Linked DNA regions of Homo sapiens. The protein of the gene in region 5 purifies or fractionates together with the protein of the main gene of each other region. This does not show direct contact. Each region holds a gene or a part of one and is shown on either strand. Other genes may lie near its edges.

Region 1 (4,021 bases), on a different chromosome or scaffold from region 5:
GTGCCAATTGTGTAAGTGGACACAAATTTATTTAGTTCGAATGCCAAATAATATTAAATATTAATAATATATCTAGCCTGGAAAGCTTTTAGTTTTCACTTGGTTAAAGAGCCATATAAATAATCAGAATATCTAAAAATAATCCCAATACCTACCAATTCTTTATCAGTCATTTCCCTTAGGATTCACTTGTAATCAAGCCTGCCTAGACAGCTGTATCACAACTGAAAAAAGTGCTTTTCTCTTTATGTTACCCCAGAAACTGCCAACAAATCTGATCAGAAAACTAGCCCACTCTAGTTCGACTTTTTGTTCTTTTCAAAATAACCTTTTTTGTTGGCTTCTTTACTTGTTTATAGAGCACTTGCACACAGGGAAGTTAATAAATAAGAGATAAATAAAGAAATATATATTTTAAATGTGTAAAATGCTGCTGGATTTATATAGACAGATTTCTAGGACTTGTGGGTTACATATGAACAGTCACTTGGTTTCTCAGCTTTCTCTCTCTACAATTGTGCTCAATTCTTCTGACAGCAGGGCTAACTTGCAAGACTGCAATTCTGAGACAAAGCTGATGTTTATAGAACTCTGCTAGTCACAGTTGCTTAAACCACACCTGAACCAGAAAATGCACCTGGCAGCTTATTTCACTTTCATTTGTCCTTAAGGCCTATGTCAGCATAACAGTGGGGGAGAGGGAGACGACTTGGCCACATGGTATTGCAGCTATCACTGGTTGACTTATCGCTCTGCACAATTTACATATGGGTGTGTATATGTGAGTCCATGAGTAAATCTTGCTTTTTCCACTCCTTCGCAGCTCAAAGTTCTAACTGATTTCAAAGACAGGGCTCCTCACTTAGTCTCTCAATTAAGCTTTCCCCAAAGAGTTGTGGCCATTATTTAGCAATTGCTACAACACTACATATCTTAAGTGAAAAGACCTTGGCACCCTTTCCATGGAATCATCATTGATTATGTTATCTATACCTTTCTTCTCTTTCAGTTTTAACCATCCTCTGTACAAATCAAAAATATTTATCATATGTATACAAAATAAACTGAATTATTTGGGAGACAATGGAATTTCTACATTGTTACATTAAAATCAAAGATGATTCATTTCTTTAACTCAAGTAATTAATGGTTTTATCAAATTATTTACTCTGTGTGTGATACATCCACACACATACTTAGGATTTCAAGGGCTCCTGCCCCCACTTTTTGGTGAATCGTATTTTGGATCCACCCCAAATTTCTGTGGAATCACATTTTGGATCTAATGACCTTGGAGAGATTTAACACTCTTCTTTTCCTGTAAATGTCTTATTCTAATTCTTCCACATACAAGATTTAACATGCTAAATGGGAGTAAAGCCACTCCATAAACAAAATATAGAATTTCAAATAGTTTGAAGACCTTATGTTAATAACAGAGCTATGAGTATGGCTTTGAGTATGAACCAAAGGTGACAGATTTCTCAGATAATATATTGAGATATCAACGGACATGAATTGGCCTAGTATCACACAAATAAGTGCTTCTGCAATAAACCACTTTCTATATTTTTTTCAACGTATATGGACTGATGTTTTTGTCTGACATTAACAGACATAGAAATTGTAGCCATATGCTGTAATTTTCAATTATATGTATAAGTGATCTCCTACTTAGCTCTTTTGACATTTGAAAATCCTGAACTTTTCTGCATGAGAGATTGACACTCAAAACAACTTTAATAATTCTAGTCTTTAATCCATCAATTACTAAGTATTTCATTTTACTGTACATGGGGCTGCCAGCATGTCAATATGCAGTTTCAATAATATCACTGTATTTCTTTTTACTGCGTATTTGCACACTTATTTGAATATTTTATTGCAATTTGAACTTATAATCAATTTTGAAAACTGGAAAAATGAAAATTCTGAAGTTAGTGACAGGATGTTTATAATTTGGATACAATTAAAGCAAAGATGAACTTCACTGTACATGCCAAGAGAAGCGGCCCTTTGGTCTTGATCAGATGACCATTGCACACGTGTTCCATTGTGAAGAAAAGGAACAATTTTTTAAAAGTATAAAATACTAGAAACATATTGTTGAATATTGTGTTTACAATGTTTACAGAGTAATCAATCGTCAATTGTATTTATATTTTAGCTACTAGAAAATAAAATTTGACTTGTATTAGAATATAAAATTTGACTTTCACACCTAGGCATACGCTGAAGATAATACAGGTTGGGTTCCAGACACCACAATAAAGTGAGTATTGCAATAAAATGAGTTACACAAATTTTTTTTGGTTTCCCAGTGCATATATAAGTTATGTTTACATTATACTGTGGCTTATTAAGTGTGCAATAGCATTATGTCTGAAACATCAATGAACAACCTTAGTCAAAAGATAAGTTATCCCTAAAGAAATGCTAACTATCATCTGAGCCTTCAGCAAGTTGTAATCTTTTTGCCATTGGAGGGGCTTGTCTTGATGTTGATGGCTGCTGACTGATCAGGGTGGTGGTTGCTGAAGGGTGGGGTGGCTATAGCAATTTCTTAAAATAAGACAATAACGAATTTTGCCAGAAAGATTGACTCTTCCTTTCACAAACGATTTCTCTGTAGCATGCAATGTTGTTTAACAGCAGTTTACATATGGTAAAACTTCTTTCAAAATTAGAGTCAATCTTCTTAAATCCTGCTGCTGTTTTACCAACTAAGTTTTTATAATATTCTAAATTCTTTGTTGTCACTTTAACAATGTTCATAGCACCTTCACCAAGAGAGTAGATTTCATCTCAAGAATCCACTTTCTTTGTTCATCTATGAGAAACAACACCACATCCATTAAAGTGTTATCATGACACTGAAAAAACTAAGCCACATCTTCAGGCTCCTCTTCTAATTCTATTAATAGGTCCCTTGCTATTTCCACCATATCTGCAATTACATCCTCCACAAAAGTCTTGAACCTTTCTAAGACATCTACAAGAGTTAGAATCAACTTCTTTCAAACTGCTGTTAATGTTGATATTTTGACCGCCTCCCATGGATCACAAATGTTCTTAATGGCATGTAGAATGGTGATTTCTTTCCAGATTTTCTATTTATTTTGCTCAGATTCATTAGAGGAATCACTTACCTGTGGCAGCTATAGCTTTATGAAATGCCTTTTTAAATAATAAAACTTAAAAGTCAAAGTCACTTCTTGATCCATGTGCTATGGAACAAATGTTGTGTCAGAAGGCATGAAAACAACATTAATCTCCATCAGATCTCTTAGGTGACCAGGTGCACAGTCTATAAGCAATAACATTTTGAAAGGAATCTTTTTTTTCTGAGAAGTAGGTCTCAACAGTAGGCTTAAAAAGTCAGTAGACCTTGCTGTAAACAGATGTGCTCTCATCTGAGCTTTGTTGTTCCATTTACAGAGCACAGGCAGACTAGATTTAGAATAATTTTTGAAGACCTTAGGCATTCTGGGATGGTAAATGAGCAGTGGCTTCAACTTAAAAGTCACCAGCTGTATTAACCCCTAAAAAGTCAGTCAGCCTATCCTTTGAAGCTTTGAAACCAGGCATTGACTTCCCCTCTCTAGCTCTGAAATACTAGATGGCATCTTCTTCCACTAGAAGGCTGTGTCACCTACATTAAAAATGTGTTGTTTAGTGTCACTTTGTTCATCAATTATCTTAGCTAGATTTTCTGGATAACTTGCTTCAGCTTCTTCATGAGCACTTGCTGCTTCACTTTGCACATTTACATTTTGGAGACAGCTTCTTTTCTTAAACCTCAGGAACCAACCTCTGCTAGTTTCATACCTTTCTCCTCCAGCTTTCTCATCTCTCTCAGCCTTCACAGAATTGAAGAGAGTTAAGGTCTTGCTCTGGATTAGGCTTTGGCAGAGAATGTTGTGGCTGGCTTGATCTATCCAGGGGTGTCTAATCTTTTGGCTTCCCTGGGCCAAAAAGGATTGTCTTGGGCTACGCATAAAATACACTAACAACAATAGCC
Region 2 (4,021 bases), on a different chromosome or scaffold from region 5:
TGATTATAGAGAGGATTAGGCTTCTGCAGCACTGTGCTAACATTTTGCAAAGGCTGGAAAATAGAAAAATGCTCTAAAAATTAAGCATCTGTTCTATAAAAATTATCAGATGGCAATTTAATCACAACAATGAACTTCTGAAACAAAAAGAACCACTAATGTTCTATGCTAATGTCTTCAATACCCTGAATCATTAGCTTCCCAAAGAGGTTCCTCTGAAGTCCCAATCAGGTTTGAGGTGGATAAAACCAACAACTTACCTACACTAACAATTATTCTCCCATCACTCAAAGTCTAGAAGCCACCATCCCTGGCAAATGCCCAGGGGAACTACCGATTTTAGGTTAGTACAGCTTTAAGGAGATACACAAGTGGACATTTATTCTTTCAAAACAGAATTCAGAGGCCAGGCGCAGTGACTTATGCCTGTAATCCCAGCACTTTGGGAGGCTGAGGTGGGCAGATCACCTGAGGTCAGAAGTTCAAGACCAGACTGGCCAACAGGATGAAACCCCATCTCTACTAAAAATACAAAATCAGCCAGGCATGGTGGCACATGCCTGTAGTCCCAGCTACTTGGGAGGCTAAGGCAGGAGAATCACTTTGAACCAAGGAGGTGGAGGCTGCAGTGAGCAGAGATCGTGCCACTGCACTCCAGCCTGGGCGACAGAGCGAGACTCTGTTTCAAAACAACAAAACAAAACAGAGAATTCAGGATATGATGTCTCACATTATACAAGGATATAAGGCAAAACTGTCAAAAAGCAATTTATATTTCACATATCCTGACATTTTGCTGTTCTGTGTATACTTTTACTATCTAAAGTGAGCAACACTAACTGAACTGATTAATATATGGAACAATGTAGGAGAAAGAAGAAATTCAGGAGAAAGAAGCAGAGGTTCCTAGTGGTTATTGAGGATAACTGAAAAGGACAGAAAAAAGGAACAGGAAGAGGAAGAATAATTAAAAATGTACCAATGCAAAGAATTATGACAGTTACAATTAAGACTGCAAATAAAGTAGACTGACTTTATGCTTAACTCATACATTAGGTCTTATTTCTGTTACATAGAGCAGTCACCTTTCTGCTTCTTTCTTCTTTTCCTTCATCCTAATACCCCAAAGACGAGAATCTACACATTAAAATGAGTAATTAGCATCATAAACACATATTCTCAATAGTTTGAGTCAAAAATAGCAAGTTCCTGGTACCATTCAGACACATATTTTCCAAGCCTGCACTTGTCTGAATTCTAAGCTAGTACTAGGTAATTCGGATTTAACTATAAAATAGTGAATTAAGAAGCTCCCATTTTGGTTGTTTTTCTTTATGAAAATGAAAGTTGAAAGATGAGCCTATAAAACATTTATATAATGTAGAGCAGGTCCAGAATTGGGAAGAACATTCACCATTCGAGAGAATGATTTTCCATATTAGCAATAATTATTTACAACCAATGAGTGATATTTCTTTAGGGACATGACCAGAAATTTTACTAAGTGGATACTTGCCGTAAGTGAAACAATATCTCTATTTCTTTTTCTTTTCCTTTTTTTTGAGACGGAGTATCACTCTGTCGCCCAGGCTGGAGTGCAGTGGCGCGATCTCAGCTCACTGCAAGCTCCACCTCCTGGGTTCACGCCATTCTCCTGACTCAGCCTCCCAAGTAGCAGGGACTACAGGTGCCTGCCACCATGCCTGGCTAATTTTTTGTATTTTTAGTAGAGACTGGGTTTCACCGTGTTAGCCAGGATGGTCTTGATCTCCTGACCAAGTGATCCACCCACCTCAGCCTCCGAAAGTGCTGGGATTACAGGGGTGAGCCACTGCGCCTGGCCTATTTCTTTTTCTTAAAGACAATTTAAAAAAACTATCAAGTACCAATTTGTTGTAACAATAAATTTTTGCCATGTTCCTCCTCTGTGCAAAGGCACCATGCTTGGCTTTACAGTGACTACAAGATGGGGGAGAAGGTCTTGCCTTCCAGAATGCAAATGACTATGCTAGGGGAGAGTATGAGGTAAATGAAATGTGCAAATGCGTATATATACACACACAGACACATATTCATACACATAAAAAGGACTTGCTTATTTTTCTGTTTTATACTAATCTATCATTCAATGAGTTAGAGCATCTCAAAGATTATAAATAACAAATTCCAAGGGAACCAGACAACTTACCTGTGATCTTGACATAGGCAAACCAAGTCCCACAGTGTTAGTGCTCATCATAGAGAAATTCATACTCTGGGAAGATGTCATGGTTGCCTGGGACGAGCCCATAAGATCAAACAGGTCTGAAGAATTTGAGGCAGCAGGAGGTGGGCCTAGAGCTGATTGTGAGCCACTAACAAGTTCTACCGCTGGCTGTGAGGCACTGCCAAAGAACTCGCCACTGGAAGCAACAGGGCCTGATGGGGCTTGGTTGAAGGCACTCCAGTCACCAAAGTCTCCATTCCCACTTGTTGCTGTTACTAAGACAGAAATAACTCTAAGGGTAAGAAACTTCATGGAATGCACAGAACAAATGTAACAATCTATGAACTGAAACAAATTAGAGCTGATCTGAGTCCCCCAGATTAACATCTGCAGGTACCATCTCCATCTGGACAGTATTCTTTCTCATAAATATTACACGAGAGTTAACAAGGTGGCAAAGAAAAAACAAACCTCCCAAATATAACGTAAAATCCATCTCTTGGCAGCTCTGTAGGTGACACATTGAATTTACCATAAAAAAAAATGGCCAGGCATGGTGGCTCACGCCTGTAATCCCAGGACTTTGGGAGGCCGAGACAGGTGGATCACAAGGTCAGGAGATTGAGACCATCCTGTCTAGCACGGTGAAACCTCATCTCTACTAAAAATACAAAAAAATTAGCTGGGTGTTGTGACACACACCTGTAGTCCCAGCTACTTGGGAGGCTCAGGCACAAGAATCGCTTGAACCCGGGAGGCGGAGGTTGCAGTGAGCTGAGATTGTGCCACTGCACTCCAGCCTGGGTGACAGAGCGAGACTCCGTCTAAAAAAAAATGAAGAATTTCTCACTTATTTGGCCATACTTCCACTGACAATACAAGGGCTATAACCTTAGCACATTGCCTGCTTCAACTGGGACCATTTATTTACAATCAAAGAGAGGAGGAAAACTCATGTAATATTAAAAAACACAACCAAGCCAGAAACAAGCAAAACCCTATCATACTTTGCAAGTTTAAGGTTGAATGCATAAAATCCATACTCTTAATCACTACAGTCTTATCAATTAACCTCTGATCAATTTTTATATTGAAAGGAACAGATAAATACGCATAAATGGAAGTTGAAAAAGCAAAATGTGAAGAAAGAGCTACATAAAAACCGTCATCTGAAAGCAAATAGTAAGTATGTACCTTCCAAGTTAATTAACACCATCCCTTTGCATTCCATGTTCATTTACAACTTGGAAATACATTTTGTCTAGCCTAAAAAGTGACCAACCACTACAATACCATGTCTCATTATGCTAAATATCAAAAGAGAATAATAAGGTGAAGTCTTTAAAATTACATTCTTCTATTACCATATTAAAATGTAAGCACCCTTGAAAGAGAAAATAATTCACTTAGAAACTCCAAGTTCTACTAACAATTTAATATAAAAATTGGGCTAATTTCTTTACCTCAGGGTTTTACTAATACACGTCTTTGATCTTTTTTTTTTTTTTAAGTGACTGCATTAAGAGTTTTACAGTTAGTTCTAGATATTAAACAATTTAAACTAAGGCTGCTGGATCAATGTAAACTTTTATGCTGATTTTCTATTTGCTTGATCTATAATGCAGAATATGAATGGAAACTGGGGCAAAATGTGTTGCCCCACCTGAAAACTTCATATCTGAAATGATTAATCGTGGGAGGAAACGATTTCTAGTGGGGCATATATTATTCAGAAATGATTAATCATTGTTGCAATGGTTTCAGCCCCCTGCGTAAGGTGGTCAGGTTATATTAATCACATGCATACAGATGAAG
Region 3 (4,021 bases), about 100 Mb from region 5:
TCTTTCCAGACACCAAAGTAGACTCTCTCCATGGAGAAGAAAAACTGCTAGAGCTTGGTAAAACAGAAAAGATAAATTTGGGTTCTGTAACATGAAAAATACTACAGCAGTACTAAGACCAGCTAAATCTTGCCTCTAAGCATACTCAAGAGACACAAAGAACAAGCAAGGACCAAAGCTGTTAGGACCTATTTTCATCTTCCTACAGCTCCACTGTCCAATATGGTAGCTACTAGCTACATGTGGCTACTTCAATGTAAATTTATTAAAATTAAAGAAAATTTAAAATTCAGTTTCTCAGTCACACTTGAATTGTGAAGCCACACTTCAAGTACTTAACAGTTACATGTGGTTAGTGGCTACCATACGAGACAGCACAGATACAGAATATTTCCACCAAAGAAATCACTAATGAATGGTGCTATAAAGGTTCAAATACTAAGTGCATTCTTTGTTCTGAAAGCCACCTAAATTGGACTAGAGAGATAAATGATTTGGCACTAATTGGCTGTGTCATCTGGGTCATGTCCCTTCCTATTTCTGGGTGTCAGTTATCCCATCTGAAAAATAAGGACTCATGTTTTCACTAGTTCAACAGTTCCCAAGAGGGAATAATACTGCTGACGTTGTGGTTACATAGGAGAATGTCATTATTTCTAGGAGGTGTACATTGAAATATTTAGACACAAAGTATATGATGTCTTTATCTTAAAGTAGGTCAGCCAAAACAATTTGTGTGTGTGTATGTCTAAAACATATCATTTATATAAAGATAATCCATTAATTACTGAATCTGGGGGTGCACATGTTTATTTTCCTCCTTTCAATTGTTCTGTAAAGTTGAGAAAAGATGAATCTTAAAGTCAGCTGATTAAAAAAAGAAAAAGAAAAAACAAAGAAAAGGCCACAATGTGGATTATATCCTCACACTCTGCATACTTCTCCAATCCACCATGTACAGACACAAGTCTCCCCTGATCATGAACCAACAGGTGACACTCCACGTACACATCTCTTTATCAAAGGCCAGGCTGTGTGGCTAGATGGCCACGCACATTAAATGTTTAGAAAGCAATGTGGCTGATGGGGATGGGTAGTGACTTTGAAGCAAGGCAGACTTCAGCTGAAATTGTGACTCTTACCATTCCTTAGCTGAGTATTCCAAATACTTATTCTACCTCTCCTCCACTTTTCTTACCTGTAAAATTGTAAAACTTACCTTACAGAGATATTAAGGTAGGAAAAACAAATTGTACATTTTTTCCTAACATACCTCATTTTCCTCGTGTTACTTTAAATTCATTTAGCCTTCAAATAAAAAATGGAGGCCGGGCGCGGTGGCTCACGCCTGTAATCCCAGCATTTTAGGAGGCCAAGGTGTGTGGATCACAAGGTCAGGAGATCGAGACCAACCTGGCTAACACGGTGAAACCCTGTCTCTACTAAAAATACAAAAAAAAAATGAGCGGGACGTAGTGGCGGGCGCCTGTAGACCCAGCTACTCAGGAGGCTGAGGGCAGGAGAATGGTGTGAACCCGGGAGGCAGAGCTTGCAATGAGCCGAGATCGCACCACTGCACTCCACCCTGGGTAACAGAGTGAGACTTCATCTCAAAAAAAAAAAAAGAAAAAAGAAAAAAGAAAAATGGACTGTTAAAGTCCACGGACATAGGAAACTTGAATCCTTCAAGTTTATAAAGCACTCTATAAACACCACCTGAGGCTACTCTTGAGGTCAGGAGCAGCATCACTATGCTCTTCCTGTGAGAGGATCTTGGGGATCTCCGGCTACCCTACTCCTCACACAATGGCCTGTGATTAGGCATCTCTGTGCAGGTAGCCTTGTAACCTTCAGGCTGAGAAGATATCTTCCCAAAGACCAGACAATGACACTGGTTAATGTGAGCTAAAAAGGAATAAAAGTAGAGTCCAGCTCAACTACTCCACTGAAAACAGACACCAAAACACAGAAGGGATTCCTTACCAAGGGCTTCCAAGCGTTCCATTTGTTCTTCTCTCCATTTACGGATACTTTCAGGCTCTGACTGCAATCGATCCACTTGTGAAATAGCTGCATAACTGTCTGTTGGACCATTACTTTCCTTAACACAAAACACAATTGTGCTATATTAATACCAAAAATTCCTTCCTAAAATGCACTTCACCTGAGTTAGAACCCCTGGTTCTGTTTTTTTTTTTTTTTTTTGAGACAGAGTTTTCACTCTTGTCGCCAAGGCTGGAGTGCAGTGGCACGATCTCGGCTCACTGCAACCTCCACCTCCCGGGTTCAAGCAATTCTCCTGCCTCAGCCTCCCGAGTAGCTGAGATTACAGGTGCCTGCGCCTGGCCTATGTGGTTGCTTTTTTTTTTTTTTTTTTCTGGGGTGGGGGAAGGGGGGACGGGACAGGGTCTTACTCTGTCACCCAGACTGGAGTGCAGTGGCGCAATCTTGGCCAACTGCAACCTCTACTCCCCGGGTTCAAGCAAATTCTCCTCTTGCCTCAGCCTCCCCAGTAGCTGGGATTACAGGCACATGCCACTACCGCCTGGTTAATTTTTGTATTTTTAGCAGAGACGGGTTTCACTGTGTTGGCCAGGCTGGTCTCGAACTCTTGACCTCAAATGATCCACCCACCCCAGCCTCCCAAAGTGCTGGAATTACAGGCGTGAGCCACCGTGCCCGGCCTGTGTTGTTGCTTTTAAGGTAATCCTTTAACATTTTACAAAAGCCGCCATTGTTGTTAGAAACGGGTTCTGCAGTGAGCCAAGGTTGCGGTGGCTCTGGCGGGGTGCGGTGGCTCACGCCTGTAATCCCAGCACTTTGGGAGGCCAAGGCGGGATGGTCACTTGAGCCCAGGAGTTCAAGACCTGCCTGGCCAACATGGCGAAACCCCATCTCTACTAAAAATACAAAAAATTAGCCGGGCGTGGTGGCATGCGCCTGTAATTCCAGCTACTCAGGAGGCTGAAGTGGATGAATCGCTTGAACCCAGAAGGTGGAGGTTGCAATGAGACAAGATCGTGCCACTGCACTCTAGCCTGGGCGACAGTGAGACTGTCTCAAAAAAAAAAAAAAAAAAAAAGACTCAAATAAATGTTAATCTTTACAAAATTATTCCATATGCCACTCACTGAACTAAGGAATATTAATATTACCAGGTTAACCTAATCAGACTATAAACAAAGATGGAAGGAGAATTATTTAAAGTATTAGTATTAACTTACTGCACTCAACACAGTATCATTTGAATGGTGATTTCTTTAGAATAAAGGTGATAACACTAGGGGCAGGTAAATAACATTTTTAAACAGTTCTCTTTTTATCAATGCTACCTCTCTTTAAATCTTTCCACTTTGGTAGATAACACACCAGCCAGTAATACATTCAGGAAAGTCAAAGGACTGGGGTTTCTTTCTAGGTCAGTCAATTAAAATCACAGGAAAGGAAGATTCTCAATCACTATCAATGAACAGAATCAGAGTACTCTGTACCTGGTAGTATTCACCATTCATTACTCCATCAACAGCATCTGCAAGACATAAGATTTTGGTCTATCAATAAGGACTGGTCAAACACTGGGCCAAAGGGTTGTACAGTAGAATACAGCATCATATGCTGTATGAACCTTGAGCTACTAAATGCTATCCCTGTGGTAGGTGCTATATACAACAAATAAAACCAAGATGTGCTTATATACAAATTTCACCAAAATGTGTACACATCTGTCCTTAAGCTCCCAAGTCCAAAAGCTTTTGATTTTATTTTCTGTTTTCTATTTTACAGTGGTAACAAATGGAAGACTAGCAGAAAGAGAACAGTGTTTCTCTATGAAAATTCTGCATGAGGGAAAAAAAAAAGTGTGGCCTGGAATCACCCATAGTGAGCAGAGACCTGCAGCTTCATCTTTGAGACAGTCTTGCTCTGTCGCCCAGGCTGGAGCAAAGTGGCCCAATCATGGCTTACTGTAGCCTCGACCTTTTGGGCTCAAGCGAACCTCCCACCTCAGTCCCCACAGGAGCTG
Region 4 (4,021 bases), on a different chromosome or scaffold from region 5:
CACTAAAGAAAGTAGGAACTGTACTACTCCAATAGAGACTTCAGAGACCTCACCAAATACTATATGAACCCAGATTGGATTTTGGTTTAAAAAAAGGTATAACAGAAATTCTTGGGACAACTGAAGAAATCTGAATATGGACCGAATGTTAAATGATACTATGGATTACTGTTAGTTTTCTTATACATAATAATGGTATTGTGCTTAAGTGTGCCCTTTTTGTTAAGAGATGCAGGCTGAAGTGTTCAGTGGTGAAGTGACATATTACCACTAAATTTTACATGACACAGCAAAAAACATCTGTGTGTATATATGTACAGAAGGCATGTGGGGGTGTGTTGTACTGTTCTTTCCATTTTTCTGCACATTTGACATTTTTCATAATAAAAAGCTGAAACAAAGAAAGCTGGGAAATAATGTCTGAGATGAAGGAAAGGGGGTAGGAGAAATAAGAAAAACAACTTCATCATCCAAAATGTATTCTAAAAGGTGAAATACTAAAATCTAAAAGACAGAAATATAATGTTAGGAGAAAAACAATTATCATGAAAAACAGCAGAACGGTAGGATATGAATTTCTGAAGAAAATGGTTCTCTCTCAAACAGAGGTAATATACTCAGTCATGAGGGCTCTGGGGAAATAAGTATAATTCCAAGAAAGAATGCCGGGGCTGGACTCAGTGTTTTAATCTGCTATCTGAGTCACAGCTAAAACAATTCCATGGCAACAGAACAGATCGGACTCAGACAAGCCAGCAGCCTGCCTGCTGGTCTAGACCTCCCTGCTAGATACAATCACTCGCTCTGGCTAGGCCTAAAGGATCCATGTGAATACTAATGGTAAGGATAACGTATGCTGTCACCTCACCTAATTTTCTTTGGTAAAAAAACCAAGAATATACTTTTGTAGCCCAAAGAGATTCTGCATACAATCCAACAATATTTTCATTTAGAAGGAAATTTCTTAATACAATGAACTTTATTACTAAATCAACTTATGTTACTGAAGATAGTAAGTACTTCCTTCATAAAAACATTAATATTATAGCTTGGCTTGAGGGAGAGGTGGGAAAATCAACCTCCTTTTCTTTCTTAAGCACATCACATTAAGTAAGTATCAAATTTCAATGTACATTATAAGCATCTGGAATGCGGATAAAATGCAGATCTGTAGGCTCCATATCCTGAGATTCTGATTCCATTGCCAGAAGTGAGGGTACCTGTAATAAGCACCCCCAGGGATTCTGATTCAGGTACTCCAGGGTTCCAGGATAGTTCTATGCTTCCATAAATAGCAAAGTTTTACTCTGATTAGATATAATGTGGTATTAGTGAGGAATACTAAACTGGGAGCCAGGAAATCTGGGTGCTAGATTTGTTACTAACTGATGGTATTTGACTCTGGGCACGTCAATGTCTCTGTGCCTCAGTTTTCTCATATGCTCAAATGAGGATAATTCTGCCTGCCCCACTTAGCATACCTCACGTACATGCTAATTTATACAAAAGTGACTTGAGAGTATGAAGAGCTTAACAAACAAGCATTATATCTTTGAGAGGGGAGTCTTTAATCTTATTTGGTGAGCTTAGTATTATGTATTGTACTCACAACAAGAGCCAACTGCAGATTAGTCCCCCCTCTTTCCCCTTAGGCTTAATCTAATCAAAACAGTGCTAAAGTAACATTCTTCTTTATCATTTGACATCCCCCGTGGCCAAAAGAAGACAGAAAGCACAAAGATAATGAGGACGTCACTTAAGTATTGTGAAAATTAAATGTAAAAGAGGTTTATGTCTTGGGACAGTTCTTACCAAGTCTATGAGTTTGGTAACAGGAACTTCTCGGATTGGTCTTTTCATACGGCACAGAGCCTCTAAGGATGTGCCAAAACAACTTGGGAGGTAATTTCCACTGATAGTCAAGAAGTAATCTTTGCCTCGATCCAGGTGAAGGACGAGAATATCTTCAATCTTATCTTCTCCCGAGTTCAGGATGGTTACAGAGTCTTTGCTGACATACACATCAAGAGAAATGTCCACTGTCTCATCTGAAATGTAAGAGATGATACATGGTAATAGGAAAACCTCCAGTGGGAAAGCAAAAAAGAGTATAAGAACCAACAGAAAAGTGTCCTCTAAAAAAATCATTAAGCAATGAGGGGGAAGAGACAGGACACACACCAGAGGTATCACCAATATGACAGTAAAGGTAAGAGACATGTGGTTAGAAAACAGAAAGTTAAACCAAGGGGATGGGAGTCATGACATCACCAGCAGAGACAATGGTAAAGGGAAAACTCACTTGGCTCCAAGTAGCCCTCAAAAGGTTCAGCCCGAAGCCATGGCTTGCAGTACTGGCTGTCATTAAGTTTAGGGATGAAAGAAAAATGGCAGGGAACCTGTCCATTGTTGCTGATCTGGAACTTCTCCTTTTGTAGTTGCCGAAACTTCACATTTTCAAACACAAACTGGGGAATAACAGACAGACACAAACATGCATCACTAGTAGGGGAAGTAAGTCAGTTGGATTATTCCATAGAGGATATGAGGAGTAAGGTAATTGTTAAGCAGGTGTGCAAATGCCATAGACATTCACCAACTGAACCAACTTCACAACATCCACTTGCATGTATTATTATACTCACACCAGCAGAGAAGGAGTTAGGTGGCTCTTGCTACTTCTCCAGGCTACTCTGATCATTCCTAGGATCCTAAGAGGGTAACCCAACCTTGGTTCAGAGTATTCATCCTGTGACCAAGTCCTGGTTTCTGAGATATAAATTAACTAGCAACTCTGAAATATTAAATAAGAGCATCTAACAGCGGAGGGCTTACTATGTGCCGGGTGCTGTTCTGAGAGCTTTGCATGTATTAACTCATGTAATCCTTACAACTACCCCTTAATCCAGGAAAGGAAACTGCGGCTCTGAGCGGGTAAGATACTTGCCTGAGGTCATACATCTACTAAACAGCCGTGCTACAACTGGAATGGAGGCAGTCTGACTCCAGCGACATGGGCTTAACCACGTTGCTATGTAGCCTTTTCTAAGTAGCAGTTTCTTCTGTGCTAACCACAGTGAGCAGTAGACAGGGAGATCATGTATTTTTGCTCACCTCCCTCCTGCTGAGTTCTAAGGAAGGAAGGAAGTCATTTTCCATTCTGTCCATGATGCGTACACTATCTTCAAAGACTTTCCGGTACCTTCGTTCATCCACAACCTTCACCTGAAAGAAAATGTATCCTCTTTTCAGTCTTATATCCTTCTAGCTCATCTCCCTTGGAGATTATCTAACAATTTAAAACTGGTCATTACAGTAACTATTTAAAATAAACTGTGGTGCAAACAACATCCTCAAACACTCTCTATATCTTGCTTCATCCACAGCTTGCACCTGAAAGAAAACAGATCCTTGCTTTAGTTTTATGTGTTCTCAACTTTTATACCTCCAAGAGTCTCTAACAATTTTTAAGGTCACTAAAGCAAACATAAATTGAACAAAGCATTATAGAAGCACACGCTTTAAGGTAAAGGTAAGATTAATTGGCTAACGTCCTGTAAAAGTTAAACCCCTACGTTAAGAAGCTTGGTAATAATAAATATTTGGGAAGAATATTTTCTTGCTTCATTGTTAAGTTATTTGGTAGTGGAAAAAATGTGATAATTGTGGTAAAAATGATTGCTTGCACTGTACAAAATGACAGTGTCAAAACACAGCAATTACTGTTTCTAACAATCATAACTTGGTGAGGTGGCAGCAAATATTATTAAAAAGCTTTTAACTCTATTAGATTCTATGTACAATACCAAGAAGTATAATATCACTGCTCAGATTACATAATAGCAGAGATATATTAATAAATGGAACCTACAGCCATTTTAGAAAATGGCTGAAACAAAATGTCCTAGACTAGAGTAAAACCATGACAACGTATAAACACATCTCCACTGATAAAAAAATTTTCCACCTGACACAGCACTTTCAGCTTCCTGATATAGCTGTGTTTTTTTAAATATTAAAA
Region 5 (4,021 bases):
CTTGGCCACCCGGACACCACAGCAAGAGGCACGGCGGGAGGAGTGCACTCCTGCGGAGGGAGGTGGCTCGCAGCAGGAGGACCGGACAAAGGACCCGAAGTGAGGCCACGGCTTCCCGTCGCTCTGCACCAGCCCCACCCCAGGGCTCCCAGCAGAGCTGAATGTCCTTGTATGGAAATAAAAAGTGCCTGGGCTCCTTCTGGAACCTACACAGGTCTGAGGGGTCAGGTGTGCACCTGGTCACACGCACACAAACCATGATGCTCGAGGCCCATGGGGGAGGCCCAGCCCCATTCCCCGGGGCAGTACCCAGCAAGCCACGGCAGCCTTGCTCCTCGGGGCGGGCCCCCTTCTGACTGCAAGGCCTTCCTGTGTGGCCCCAAGTCTGGTTCCAACTGGCCTTACATACCGCAAGACCATGGTTTTCCAATTCCCTATCACACAATCCTTCTACCTGGGGTGACACTGAATCGGTGAACCCAATCGGTGTATGTTGAACTGGGTTAGAGGGTAGGAAAAGCAGATAATGATCAAATGTGTACACAGACACTTTTCGAACGACTGCAGGATTATGCGGAACCTAACTCAAATGTCACTCATGAGCTGGTGTCCCTGTGAAAAAGAGGCACAGAAGAATCTTCTGCACGAGCACAGCCGGTCCCCGAGCCGCTGCCCGCACCACCACGTGCTGACAGCAGCTTGCGGGACTCCGCCTCGCTTAGCTGATGCGTGTGGCTCATGCTCCAAAACTATTTTCTCTCCATGTTTTTATTCTCCAGGGGCATTTAAAGGACTATGGTTATACCCAATGCTTCTGACGTAAGCTTCCAGAGGCTAGCCCAGCTTCCCAAGGCATGCAAGACAGAACTTTTCTGCAGACAGCCAGCAGGAGCAGGGGTGACAGCAAATGGAGGGCTCTTTTTGTCACATAAGCTGGGGAGGCTGGTTCAAATCCTAAGCAAGTATTATAAGCAATTCAAGATGCTAACGCGTGGTGTGAACTAAGGGTGGCCTGTGCTTGGGAGAGTAGGTTCTGGAGCCGGGAGCCCTGTCCTCAGGAAGCGTTACTGGAATACTGTTCTCACGCCTGCGGGACTGTGGGTGACCCCGGAACCAAGCGAACAAACACTACTAAGGAATACACTGTGAGTGAGACTCAACTGGTCAAAGCACAGACAGAAAAGTGGGTTACACATACGACTCGACTCTTACCTGGTAATAGAGGGAGGCTGCGCCAGGCTCCGGTGGGTACGGCAAAGAGTACTGAGGCTGGTAGGCATCGTACAAAGGCCGGTAGTAGTAGTAGGCGGCCAGGTCCTGAGGCGGTGGGCCGGGGGCAAGTGCAGGCACTGGCTGTGGCCACGGCTGCTCTGACGGCACAGCTGCCTGGCCGGAGCCACTGGACACCAGAGACACGCTAGAGGACTGAGGAGGCCGAGGGGGCAGCTGCTGACCCGCGTCGACCAGAACCAGACTTGCTGGTGACTGTGCTGAGTTCTGGGCCTGTCCCTGTGCGGGCAGACTTTCTGGATTTGACAGCTCCGAAAACATGGCTTTGGGTAGTTGTGGGGGAGAAGCCTGTTGCTGGGGTGGCACCAGCTCCTGCTGGGCTCTTTCGAGGCCAGGCTGGCCCTGGGCATCTTTCGTGACCTGCTGATAAAAACGGTCAAGGTTAGGCGCCCCAGGCCCAGATTGTCTGGGATGACTGGCAACACTTTGCTGAGAAGCGAGGCTGTCAGAATGGGACGGGTTGTACACGTTTACAGGATTTTCCAAAGTCCTGCTTAAGGTAAAGTCTAGGGCTCCGTAAGTGTCTTCCTGATGACTGGAATGGTTTGCCTTATTACCATCAGGCACCAGGGTGCCGTGTGCAGGTGGAACTAACACCACACTTGTGCTTCCAGCAGGGCTATTAGCAAATCCGGGAAGAGCACTTCCTGCCTTACGATCCTTTTGACTTTCTGGAACCAAGTTCTCTGGAACTGGCTGGGATGGTGGTTGAACCAGCAAATTAGCAGGCTGATTAGAAACCATTTCGGAAGCACCAGAACCTTGTGGAAAATTACTTTGGGCAACACTGCTAGGCAGAGACAAGCTAAGGACAGAGCTGGTTGGAATCCCAGACAAAGAAGTGTTCTCCCCAGAATCACCACCGAGAGCCCAACTGCTGACTGCAGGTCTATCCCCCACCAAAGCCTCTCTCCAGGACTGATTCTTCTCATGAGAGTTCGATAAGGACACAGAAAAGTTAATGGGCTGAGCCAGATTATAGCTGTGATCAGGCTGAGCAATCAAGACTGGAGGATTCTGCAGAGACTCAGTGGGCGGTGAGGATAATAAACTTGCATAACCAGAACTCGCCTGGGACTGAAGGGCCTCCTCCTCTCCCATTTTGGGAGGATTCTCAAGGTTCTCAGAAGCACCAATGCCACCTCGGCTCTGCACCGGGGCCGCCGAGCTTGGGTTCCGTGACTGCTGCCCGGACATCGCCTCTTCTGGAGGCTGAACAACAGGTGGCTGAGGTTTTGCACACACATAAAGCGCCGGGGCTGCAGGGGCCAGAAGGACGTTGCCTCCAAAATCTGGCAGCTCACTTTGCGCCCACAGAGTCGTTGCTGGGCTCTCACACTTCACGGGCCCCTGGGTCCTGGCTGAAGGCCTCTTCTCGGGTGCTGGATACACAGTATCCAAGGGCGGTGCCCCTGCGTGCGGAAGCATGTGCACAGCTTCCGTGGTGGAGTTAAGAGGCAGGGGACAGACCTGGGGTGCACAGAGGGTCTCCATGTTGTCTGGTGGCTGCTCCAGGTTGCCAGGGGAAGCATCGGGCAGGGCGGCAGCTGGTCTGCACTGCTTCTGGCGGACACAGGTCTCCCTTACTTCACCAACCACGTTGGCGCGATCTGCCTCAAATGGTTTTACCCCAACTAAGTGAGATTTTACCGGTTCGAAAGAACTATTTGCACTTGTCTGAAATATTCCTGTAGGTTTCGGGGGGCTCGGGGTTGAGGGCTGGGACACGCTGCCACGGTAATTCTGGCTCACAGTGGTCTCGTCTGTTTCACCTCCTACGGGAGAAGAATCGATTTGCTTAAAAAAACTACCTGAAGCTTCATCCTCGGGTTTTCCAACTTCTTGCTGAATGAATGTGCCAACCAGCTCCTGGGGCCTGGCTGAGCCTGAGAGCCTTCCGTGGCTTCTGCTGCTATAGCTGGATGACACGCTGTCAGGGTGCACTGTATGCAGTGTGGCATCAGGGGCTCCGGTGTGGCACACAGCACCATGCCTGGGCACAGCTGGCCCAGGAAGGGGCCCATATCTGAACTGGTCACTCGGGGAGGAAGGGTCCAAATTGAGGGGCTCACTTGGCAGAACTTCTTGATTCTGAACAAATTCTAAGTTCTCAACATTCTCATACTGCGAGCCGCTGGCATCCGGCACCCCTGTGCTCGCTGTGTCACCCCACACATCACCAGCAGCCTCATTGCTGGGGCCTGGGAGAAGGGCCTGGCAGAGGCTGCCTGCCCCCACGTGTGTAGGTGCGGGCGGACGGCCTAGCCCAGGGCTGGAGCAGAAATCGTCAAAGTCCGCTTGACCAGATAAGCCTGCTTTTTCAGATGAGAGATTCTCCTCATTTTCTGTCTCTCCCCCTTGGAAAAACATCGCCAGAGCTCCTGAAGCTCCTGAGTCTGCTTCTAGCGGGGCACAGCCAGACCCGGCCCCAGCCCCCAGTGGGTGGTGCGTACGGTTTTCTGGGCTATCTCCCCGGGCGAGGGGGTTCACAAGAGCAGAGGCGGGCCGGTGCTCATTCTTCACTCCTGGATTCTGCCTGAGCTCTGGGCTTGCCCAGTGATTCACAATTCTGGGATTTTGCCTGAATGTACTTTCAGGATCAGAGTTATTGGCCAGGTGGCTTCCACTTTGCAAGTGGCTCACCTCGTCTCTTCCGTCACTGGGCAAGGCTGCTGGGGGAGCCACCAGAGGGCTGTGTTGCTCATGACCAGGGCCCTGATGTAGGATGGAC
Region 6 (4,021 bases), on a different chromosome or scaffold from region 5:
AAGTAGTAAAAGGATAAAAGAACATGGCTAAGGACAAAATCATTACAGAGCAATCAACAGCTTTCATATCTACAAAGAACAGTGAGAAGATAACATGGAAGAAAATACTTCGTTTCTAGCAGCAACGAAAGATGCAAAATAACGATAAACAAACCTAACAAGAAATATGCAAAATGGATATAAAGAAGACTTGGCATATCATAAAAGTAACATATCAAATAAAGAGGGAAAGTAGACCGGGCAGGGTGGCTCACATCTGTAATCCCAGCACTTTGGGAGGCCGAGGAGGGTGGATCACAAGGTCAGGAGATCGAGACCATCCTGGCTAACACGGTGAAACCCCATCTCTACTAAAAAATACAAAAAATTAGCCGGGTGTGGTGGCAGGTGCCTGTAGTCCCAGCTACTTGGGAGGCTGATGCAGAAGAATGGCATGAACCTGGGAGGCGGAGCTTGCAGTGAGCCAAGATCACGCCACTGCACTCCAGCCTGGGTGACAGAGCAAGACTCCAACTCAAAGAAAAAAAAAAAAAAAAAAGAGGGAAAGTGAAAAAATGGTATTAAAATAAACTACATAATCATCTGGAAAAATGCCAACTAAGTTTGGTCCATGCCTCACACCACATCAGGCCTAATTCCAAACAAATCAAGGACTTAATGGAAAAAAAACAAAGCCCTAAACAAACAAGAATCAGCTATGAGGAAACTTTTGTAACTTGGGAGTGTGGACTTCTAACTATGACACTAAACTGGAAGCTACCAAAGATTGGTCGGCTGGGCCCAGTGGCTCACATCTGTAATCCCAGCACTTTGGGAGGCTGAGGTGGGAGGAACGCTTGAGCCTAGGAGTTTGAGACCAGCCTAGACAACATAGGGAGACCTTGTCTGTACAAAAAATACAAAAATTAGCTAGGCGTGGTAGTCTCAGCTACCAGGGAGGCTTAGGAAGGAGGATCGCATGAGCCTGGGAGGTCAAAGCTGCAGTGAGCCACAATCTCGCCACTACACTCAGGCCCAGGCAACAGAACAAGAACATGTCTCAGAAAATAAATAAATAAAAAATAAAAGATTGACCTTCAAACATTAAAATTTTAACATCTCTGTGTGGCAAAAATCACAATAAGTTAAACAAGAAATGGGGAAAAGAATATTTGCAACTCAGTTCATAAAGGGCTAATTCATGAAGCATATCTATAAAGTAATAAAAAATTAATAATCTAATAAAGATAGAAAAAGGATACAAACAGATAAAGTTCACAGAAAATAAAACAAAACATTCTTTTTTATTTTTCTTTATTTACTTTTTTTGAGACGGAGTTTCACTCTTGTTGCTCAGGCTGGAGTGCAATGGCGCGATCTTGGCTCACCGCAACCTCTGCCTCCTGGGTTCAAGCGATTCTCCTGCCCTAGCCTCCCAAGTAGCTGGGATCAGTATGAACCAGCATGTCTGGCTAATTTTGTATTTTTAGTAGAGACGGGGTTTCTGCATGTTGGTCAGGCTGGTCTGGAACTCCCGATCTCAGGTGATCCGCCCACCCTGGCCTCCCAAAGTGTTGGGATGACAGGCGCAAGCCACCGCACCTGGCCGAAACATTCTTAAATAGATGGCAAGAAGTTCAGCCTCACTCAAAAATAAGAGTAATGAGGCTGGGCGCTGTGGCTCCCACCTATAATCCCAGCACTTTGGAAGGTCGAGGCGGGTGGATCACCTGAGGTCAGGAGTTCGAGACCAGCCTGGCCAACATGGTGAAACCTCATCTTTACTAAAAATACAAAAAATTAGCCAGGCCTGGTGGCAGGTGCCTGTAATCCCAGCTACTTGGGAGGCTGAGGCAGGAGAATTGCTGGAACCTGAGAGGGGGAGTTTGCAGTGAGCCGAGATCGCACCATTGCACTCCAGCCTAGGGGACAAAAGGGAAACTCTGTCTTAAAAAAAAAAAAAAAAAGTATTAAAAATAAACTTGCTCTGAGAATGCAGTTTTCGCCTATATGACTGGCAAAACTCAAAGATGTATGAACTATAGGCAAGGTTGTGGGGAAAGAGACAATTTCTACACTGCTGGGGAAGGTGTAAATTATCACAGCTCTCTAGAGGGCCTGGCAGTACCTATCGAAGTAAGAAACACACACCCTCTTCGACCCAGCAAGTCTACTTCTGCAAGTGTATCCTACAGACACTCACAGGTGTGGAAAGCAATGTGTTGTGCAGTTACACGGTGTCCACAGTTATTTACTGCAGCATCATTGGTAACAGCAAGACTCTAGGCACAAACTAAATGTTCACCCACAGCAGATGAGATGAATGACATATCCCCAAGGTGGAACCCTATATAGGTACAAAAGCTAGTAATGCTCTTCATGTGTTGATACACAATATTCATCAAGATAAATTAAGCCTGAAAAACAAGATTCAGGACAGGGCTCTCCATGCTATATGGAAAGGGGGATGCAACACTCTATGCGTGTTGGCTTGCACCTGCACAAATTATGTCTGGAAGGATACCCAAGAGACTGATGACATCGATGGCCCTTGGAAGGGCAAGTAGGTGACTTAGAGATATAGAGAGGCAGACATTTCACTTTTTACACCTCTAAATTAGGAAGTCAATTTCAGAAACTTCTAATGGTCTGGCGTGGAAAAAGAATCCAGGACCAGAACTCAGGGAAGCAGTCTTCTGCTCCAGGCTCTGTGACTGGCTCCGAGGGGTCCCGGGCTGGCTGACTTGCTCATCCTGCAAACACATGAGCACCCACAACAGACCACATCCTTCGCTAGGTGCCAGGCAGGCTTGGGGTACATGCAGCCCACCCTGGAGGGTGCCTCAGGCAGTGCGGTGAGAGACATGTAGAGGTGGGAACACCTCTGAGAAAATATCAAAGCGTGTGTGAGAGGAACGGGTCAGAAGTCAGAGTGGCTGGAAGAGGTGAAAACACAAGTTGGGTCAGATCACAGAGGGTTTGCAAGCCATGGCAAGGAGCTTTTATTTTCTCCAAAGTGGGATAGGAAACTATTACCGGGCTTTAAGAAAAGAATTTTAGGCCTGGCGTGGTAGCTCATGCCTGTAATCCCAGCACAGTGGTAGGCTGAGGCAGGCGGATCACTTGAGGTCGAGTTCGAGACCGTCCTGACCAACATGGTGAAACCCCGTCTCTACTGAAAATACAAAACTTAGCTGGGCACGGTGGCTCATGCCTTTAATCCCAGCTACTCAGGAGGCTGAGGCAGGGGAATCACTTGAACCCAGGAGACGGAGGTTGCAGTGAGCCAAGATGTCGCCACTGCACTCCAGCCTGGTGACAGAACGAGACTCCATCTCAAAAAGAAAAAAAAGGCTGAGCACAGTGGCTCATGCCTGTAATCCCAGCACTTCCGGAGGCCCAGGCGGGCAGATCACGAGGTCAGGAGATTGAGACCATCCTGGCTAACACAGTGAAACCCCATCTCTACTAAAAAAAAAAAAAAAAAAAAAAAAATTAGCTGGGCGTGGTGGCGGGCGCCTGTAGTCCCAGATACTCAGGAGGCTGAGGCAGGAGAATTGCTTGAACCCAAGAGGCGGAGGTTGCAGTAAGCCGAGATCACGCCACTGCACTCCAGCCTGGCCAACAGTGAGACTCTGTCTCAAAAAAAAAAAAGAAAAAGAAAAAAGAAAAGAAAAGAGCTTTATAATCTAACTTGTGTTTTTAAAAGGTGACGTTACTGTGTAGAAAGTGTATCCGAAAGGAAGCAGATAATATCCCCTGACATTACAAATGCACATATTAGCCAACGGGAAGTAGAAGCCGGTGAGACAGCGTGGCTGAGACCCAGACAGCAGCATGTGGATGGAGATGGAGAGTCTGTAGATGGATTCAGGATATCTTCTGAAGGTGGAGAAGACGTTAGCTGGTGATGGCATGAATGTAGGAGGTTCTCAGCTTGCACAGCTGGGTGAAATGGAGAAATAAAATGGGTGATGAGAAAGACAAAAAGAACAGGGTATGCAGATGCAGAGGGGGTATGCCAAGTTTGAGATGAGACGTG
Region 7 (3,847 bases), on a different chromosome or scaffold from region 5:
TAGTCCCAGCTACTTGGGAGGCTGAGGCAGGAGAATTGCTTGAACCTGGGAGGCAGAGGTTGCAGTGAGCCAAGATCACGCCAGTGCACTCCAGCCTGGGCGACAGAGAGACTCCGTCTCAAAAAAAAAAAAAAATTAAAATTTAAAAATTACATTAAAATGAATCAATGAGAAGCAGCTACCATTTCCATTTTGTGTCTCTACTATCCAAACCCATTCGACCCCAAAACATGCAGATTTTTTAAAAAAGCAGTCCCTTTCTCAGAGTGTTGTCTCCAAGAGGCCTTTTACCTGTGAATCAGTCTGAATTTCAATATACTCTTTGCCATTTTTTTCCTCCATTGTGATTCAGCACTATCACATTTAAGGGATCCCTACCTAAGAGGTAATTTGAACTTCGGGTATTAAAATAAAGTAATAGATTTTGATTCTGTCTACTGAAGGCACAAGGCCCAGCTCACTTTCTTAACATGGCAACATCACTAGCACCAAATCTGAGGTGTACAGAACTTGCATTCCTGTGGCCATTCCCACTCCCAGATGAAATTCTGAAACTACAATTAAAGAAAAAAAAAAGGGAAAAAAGCCAAGTTTGGTTTTGTTTGTTATCAGTTGCCCCTGAAGTCTATATAACAGAGCCAATTTTTAAAAAGGAGGCTACATAGAACCATGTTAAATTTATTGAACAAAGTTCATTCAGTAAATATTTAGTGAGTTCCTAATACGTGCCAGGTGCTTTACTAGGTGCTGAGGATGTAACATGAACAAAAATAATAAAGTCTCTGTTTTTAGGGAATTTACATTTTATTTGTAGAGACAGACAATAAACAAATACAAACATAAATACATGTCAGATGGTGATAAGTACTATAGAGAAAAATAAGGTAGTGTGGTCATGGCCAGGAAGGCCCCTAAGAGGGCAGAATGGAAAAGTCTAAGAGCAGAGGCATAGATAAGGAGCAATGCTCATAGCCACAGGGATACCTGGGCATAAGCCTTCTTGACCAATGACCATATTGCTCACTGGGCAGCAATATGATAGGGTTAAAGGAAGGGAAGCAGTGCCCACGGTTCTGTGCTTCTCTGCCCTAGTGGACATCTCATTCCACATGGGCTATGGAAATGACCACCTTCTGGAAAAGCCTCTGTGAGAAAAGAAGGGAAGCCAAGGGAAAGCTTGTCTCCAATTACTCTCTCATTTATTCTTTGCATTGTTTATTGGCTGTTTGAGGAATCTTGAGCCAAGTCCTAGTCATTATTTTTGCCCATCCTCGAACTTGAAACAGTCTTCATGGTCTGGCCTGCATTGTGCTAATCTGTATTGTTAAGAATACACTACAGACAGACATTGCCAGCATTGAGGGTGGAGGTGAGACTCACTTTAGAAAAGGTGATCAGGCAATACCTAATGAAGTGACATTCCAGCAGACTTAACTGAAGGAAGGCAGTGAGCCTTGGGATACATGTGAGGGAAGGAGGGTGTGGAATTCCTGGCCCAGAAACAGCAAGTGCAAAGGCTCTGAAGCAGGATTGCCCTTGGTACGTTCAAAGGAAAGTGAGGCAGCTGTGTGGCTGTAGAGGAGTGAGAAAGGGGGAGAGTTACAGGAGGTGATGTAAGAAGAGCTTTGGAGGCCTAGATTACCTACAGGTAGGGCATTGTTCGACTTTTATTCTGAATAAAATGTTGGGATTTGAGCAGGGGAGTGACATGATGTGGCTTAGATTTAGAAAAGATCGCTCTAGCTACTCTGTTTAGAAGAGGCTCTAGGGGTCAAGTATGGAAGCAGGAAGATCAGTTGTGAGGCCATTGCACCAATCCAAGCAAGAGATGATAGCAGCTTTGACTACTATGTTAGCAGTAGAGACAGTGAGAAGCGGCTGAATTCTGGATAATCCGTATCTTGAAGGTAGAGCACACCAGATTGGCTGATGGATTTGATGTGAGGTTTATGAAAAAGAGAGGAATCTAGAATGACTTCCTATTTTTAGCCTGTGCAACTGGAAAAAAAAAGGAGCTGAGATGAGGAAACCATGGGAGGAAAATCAAGTTTGCCTTTGAACATGTTGTATCTGATAATGCCTATTGGACAAGCAAAATGGGAATTTGGAAAAGACAGCAACGTATGCCTTAAGGGGAATTTATATGAGAAGGTACCCAAGTTATACTAGTTTACTTGAAGGGATACATTACATATTTGGTTAGACCTTCCATTCTAAAACAATGAGAAACTGAAATTTATAAATGGTTCTTGGTGTTTGTTATGACTGTAAACCTAATAATACTTGGACTCCTGCATTGTCATGTATTTATTATGTATATTTTACCAATCTACCCTCAAAAAGATATGTTTACAATAAAGATGATTTTGCAATGAAATCATTAAACAAACACTTTTTAAAACATGAGCTATCTACAAAGACTTGTACATGCATGTTCATAGCAACTTTATTCATACTTCCCAACTTGGAAACAATGAAAATACCTACACAGAAAAAAATGATAAATTGTGGTATACACAAAAAATGGAATACTGGCAGGGCACAGTGCCTCACACTTGTAATCCTAGCACTTTGGGAGGCCGAGGAGGGTGGATTGCTTTGAGCCCAGGAGTTCGAGACCAGCCTGGACAACATGGCAAAACCCCATCTGTACTAAAAAAAATAACAAAAACAAACTAGGTATGGTGGCATACGCCTGTAGAGTCTTAGCTACTCGGGAGGCTGAGGTTAGAGGATGGCTTGAGCCTGGGAGACAGAAATTGCAGTGAGCCGAGATGATGCCACTGCACTCCAGCCTGAGTTGACAGAGCCAGACTCTGTCTCAAAAAAAAAAAAATAAAAAATAAATTTAAAAAGCACACACACACACACAAAACCAAAAGAAATGGACTACTACACAGCAACTGAAAAGAAAGAACTGCTGAGTCATGCAACAACATGGACAAATGTCAAAACGTTATACTGAGTTTTAAAAGCCAAACAAAAAGATTATATATGTACGATTCCATTCAAATAAAGTTCAAGAATAGCCAAAAACTGAACTATGGTCATAGAAATGAAAAAGTAGTTTTAGCAGAGGGAAGGAATATTTGCCGGAAAGGAGCACAATGGTATTTTCTGGGGCAATGAAAATGTTTTGATGATTGTTAACATGGACAAAGAAAAGTGTCAAAACTCACTGAGTTGAACACTTAAGATATATGCATTTCGTTGCATGTAAACTATCTATAAAACTCACAACAAAATATGAGCAAACTGAAGGGTTACTTCAAGCCCTACCGAAAGGGTGATATACAGAAAAACCTAGGCTGAAAGTAATTAATCTAAGCACCGAGTTTGGCTCTGAGTTTCCCAGCAACCAAGGCAAAAGGGAAGCAAATGAATTCTTTAGATGTACTACCTAATATTAACATGTATCCTATGTGAAAAAAATTTTCCTAACACTAAATTTTAAAATACTTAGATAAGAAGTACTAGATATGACATAATGCTTTTAACAGCACTTTACAAAAGCTGAAGAAACATTTCTGGCTCATTTTTATTTCTATCAATCCTCAACAAAAGTCAAGAGAATAATATCATGCCATGGTTATACAAAGACATTTCTATGGGGAGCTAAAGGAAGGCACTCATAATTTTTTAGAGTGTCAGCTAGCTGCAGGGCTAGAATCTAGGGACTCATTCCAGAGACATGAAGGATTCTCAAATTTCACAGGCTCATCTTCCTGGATGCCTCAGCAGTGTTTCTGACAGAACTTGGGTTATCAGATAATTAGGGGTTAAATAAAGTGTAATGTTCCCTGGAGTTGATTAAAACTAGATAAGTTGTAGCTGTTACACTAGTATT

What was found.
Region 1: the proteins of SEC16A (region 5) and FAM83B purify together in Homo sapiens (affinity purification with mass spectrometry; one large-scale study listed by BioGRID and IntAct). This does not show direct contact.
Region 2: the proteins of SEC16A (region 5) and CLINT1 purify together in Homo sapiens (affinity purification with mass spectrometry; 2 studies listed by BioGRID and IntAct, with this or other methods). This does not show direct contact.
Region 3: the proteins of SEC16A (region 5) and CLTA purify together in Homo sapiens (affinity purification with mass spectrometry; 2 studies listed by BioGRID and IntAct, with this or other methods). This does not show direct contact.
Region 4: the proteins of SEC16A (region 5) and OCRL purify together in Homo sapiens (co-immunoprecipitation; one large-scale study listed by IntAct). This does not show direct contact.
Region 6: the proteins of SEC16A (region 5) and GTSE1 purify together in Homo sapiens (affinity purification with mass spectrometry; one large-scale study listed by BioGRID and IntAct). This does not show direct contact.
Region 7: the proteins of SEC16A (region 5) and ITM2B purify together in Homo sapiens (co-immunoprecipitation; one large-scale study listed by IntAct). This does not show direct contact.

The regions. Positions count from the first base shown.
Region 1 is NC_000006.12:54,852,965-54,856,985, reverse strand, and holds part of FAM83B (protein FAM83B), read right to left. Parts: intron 1-4,021. UniProt on the Homo sapiens protein: Probable proto-oncogene that functions in the epidermal growth factor receptor/EGFR signaling pathway. Activates both the EGFR itself and downstream RAS/MAPK and PI3K/AKT/TOR signaling cascades.
Region 2 is NC_000005.10:157,789,515-157,793,535, forward strand, and holds part of CLINT1 (clathrin interactor 1), read right to left. Parts: intron 2,482-4,021; coding exon 2,189-2,481; intron 1,138-2,188; coding exon of another isoform or gene 1,111-1,137; exon of another isoform or gene 1,086-1,110; intron 927-1,085; exon of another isoform or gene 54-926; coding exon of another isoform or gene 1-53. UniProt on the Homo sapiens protein: Binds to membranes enriched in phosphatidylinositol 4,5-bisphosphate (PtdIns(4,5)P2). May have a role in transport via clathrin-coated vesicles from the trans-Golgi network to endosomes. Stimulates clathrin assembly.
Region 3 is NC_000009.12:36,197,059-36,201,079, reverse strand, and holds part of CLTA (clathrin light chain A), read right to left. Parts: intron 3,530-4,021; coding exon 3,492-3,529; intron 2,102-3,491; coding exon 1,984-2,101; intron 1-1,983. UniProt on the Homo sapiens protein: Clathrin is the major protein of the polyhedral coat of coated pits and vesicles.
Region 4 is NC_000023.11:129,574,344-129,578,364, reverse strand, and holds part of OCRL (inositol polyphosphate 5-phosphatase OCRL), read right to left. Parts: intron 3,226-4,021; coding exon 3,115-3,225; intron 2,469-3,114; coding exon 2,303-2,468; intron 2,049-2,302; coding exon 1,813-2,048; intron 1-1,812. UniProt on the Homo sapiens protein: Catalyzes the hydrolysis of the 5-position phosphate of phosphatidylinositol 4,5-bisphosphate (PtdIns(4,5)P2) and phosphatidylinositol-3,4,5-bisphosphate (PtdIns(3,4,5)P3), with the greatest catalytic activity towards PtdIns(4,5)P2.
Region 5 is NC_000009.12:136,472,837-136,476,857, forward strand, and holds part of SEC16A (protein transport protein Sec16A), read right to left. Parts: coding exon 1,213-4,021; intron 1-1,212. UniProt on the Homo sapiens protein: Acts as a molecular scaffold that plays a key role in the organization of the endoplasmic reticulum exit sites (ERES), also known as transitional endoplasmic reticulum (tER).
Region 6 is NC_000022.11:46,299,413-46,303,433, reverse strand, and holds part of GTSE1 (G2 and S phase-expressed protein 1), read right to left. Parts: intron 1-4,021. UniProt on the Homo sapiens protein: May be involved in p53-induced cell cycle arrest in G2/M phase by interfering with microtubule rearrangements that are required to enter mitosis. Overexpression delays G2/M phase progression.
Region 7 is NC_000013.11:48,267,296-48,271,142, reverse strand, and holds the end of ITM2B (integral membrane protein 2B), read right to left. Parts: 3' UTR 786-3,847; downstream 1-785. UniProt on the Homo sapiens protein: Plays a regulatory role in the processing of the amyloid-beta A4 precursor protein (APP) and acts as an inhibitor of the amyloid-beta peptide aggregation and fibrils deposition. Plays a role in the induction of neurite outgrowth.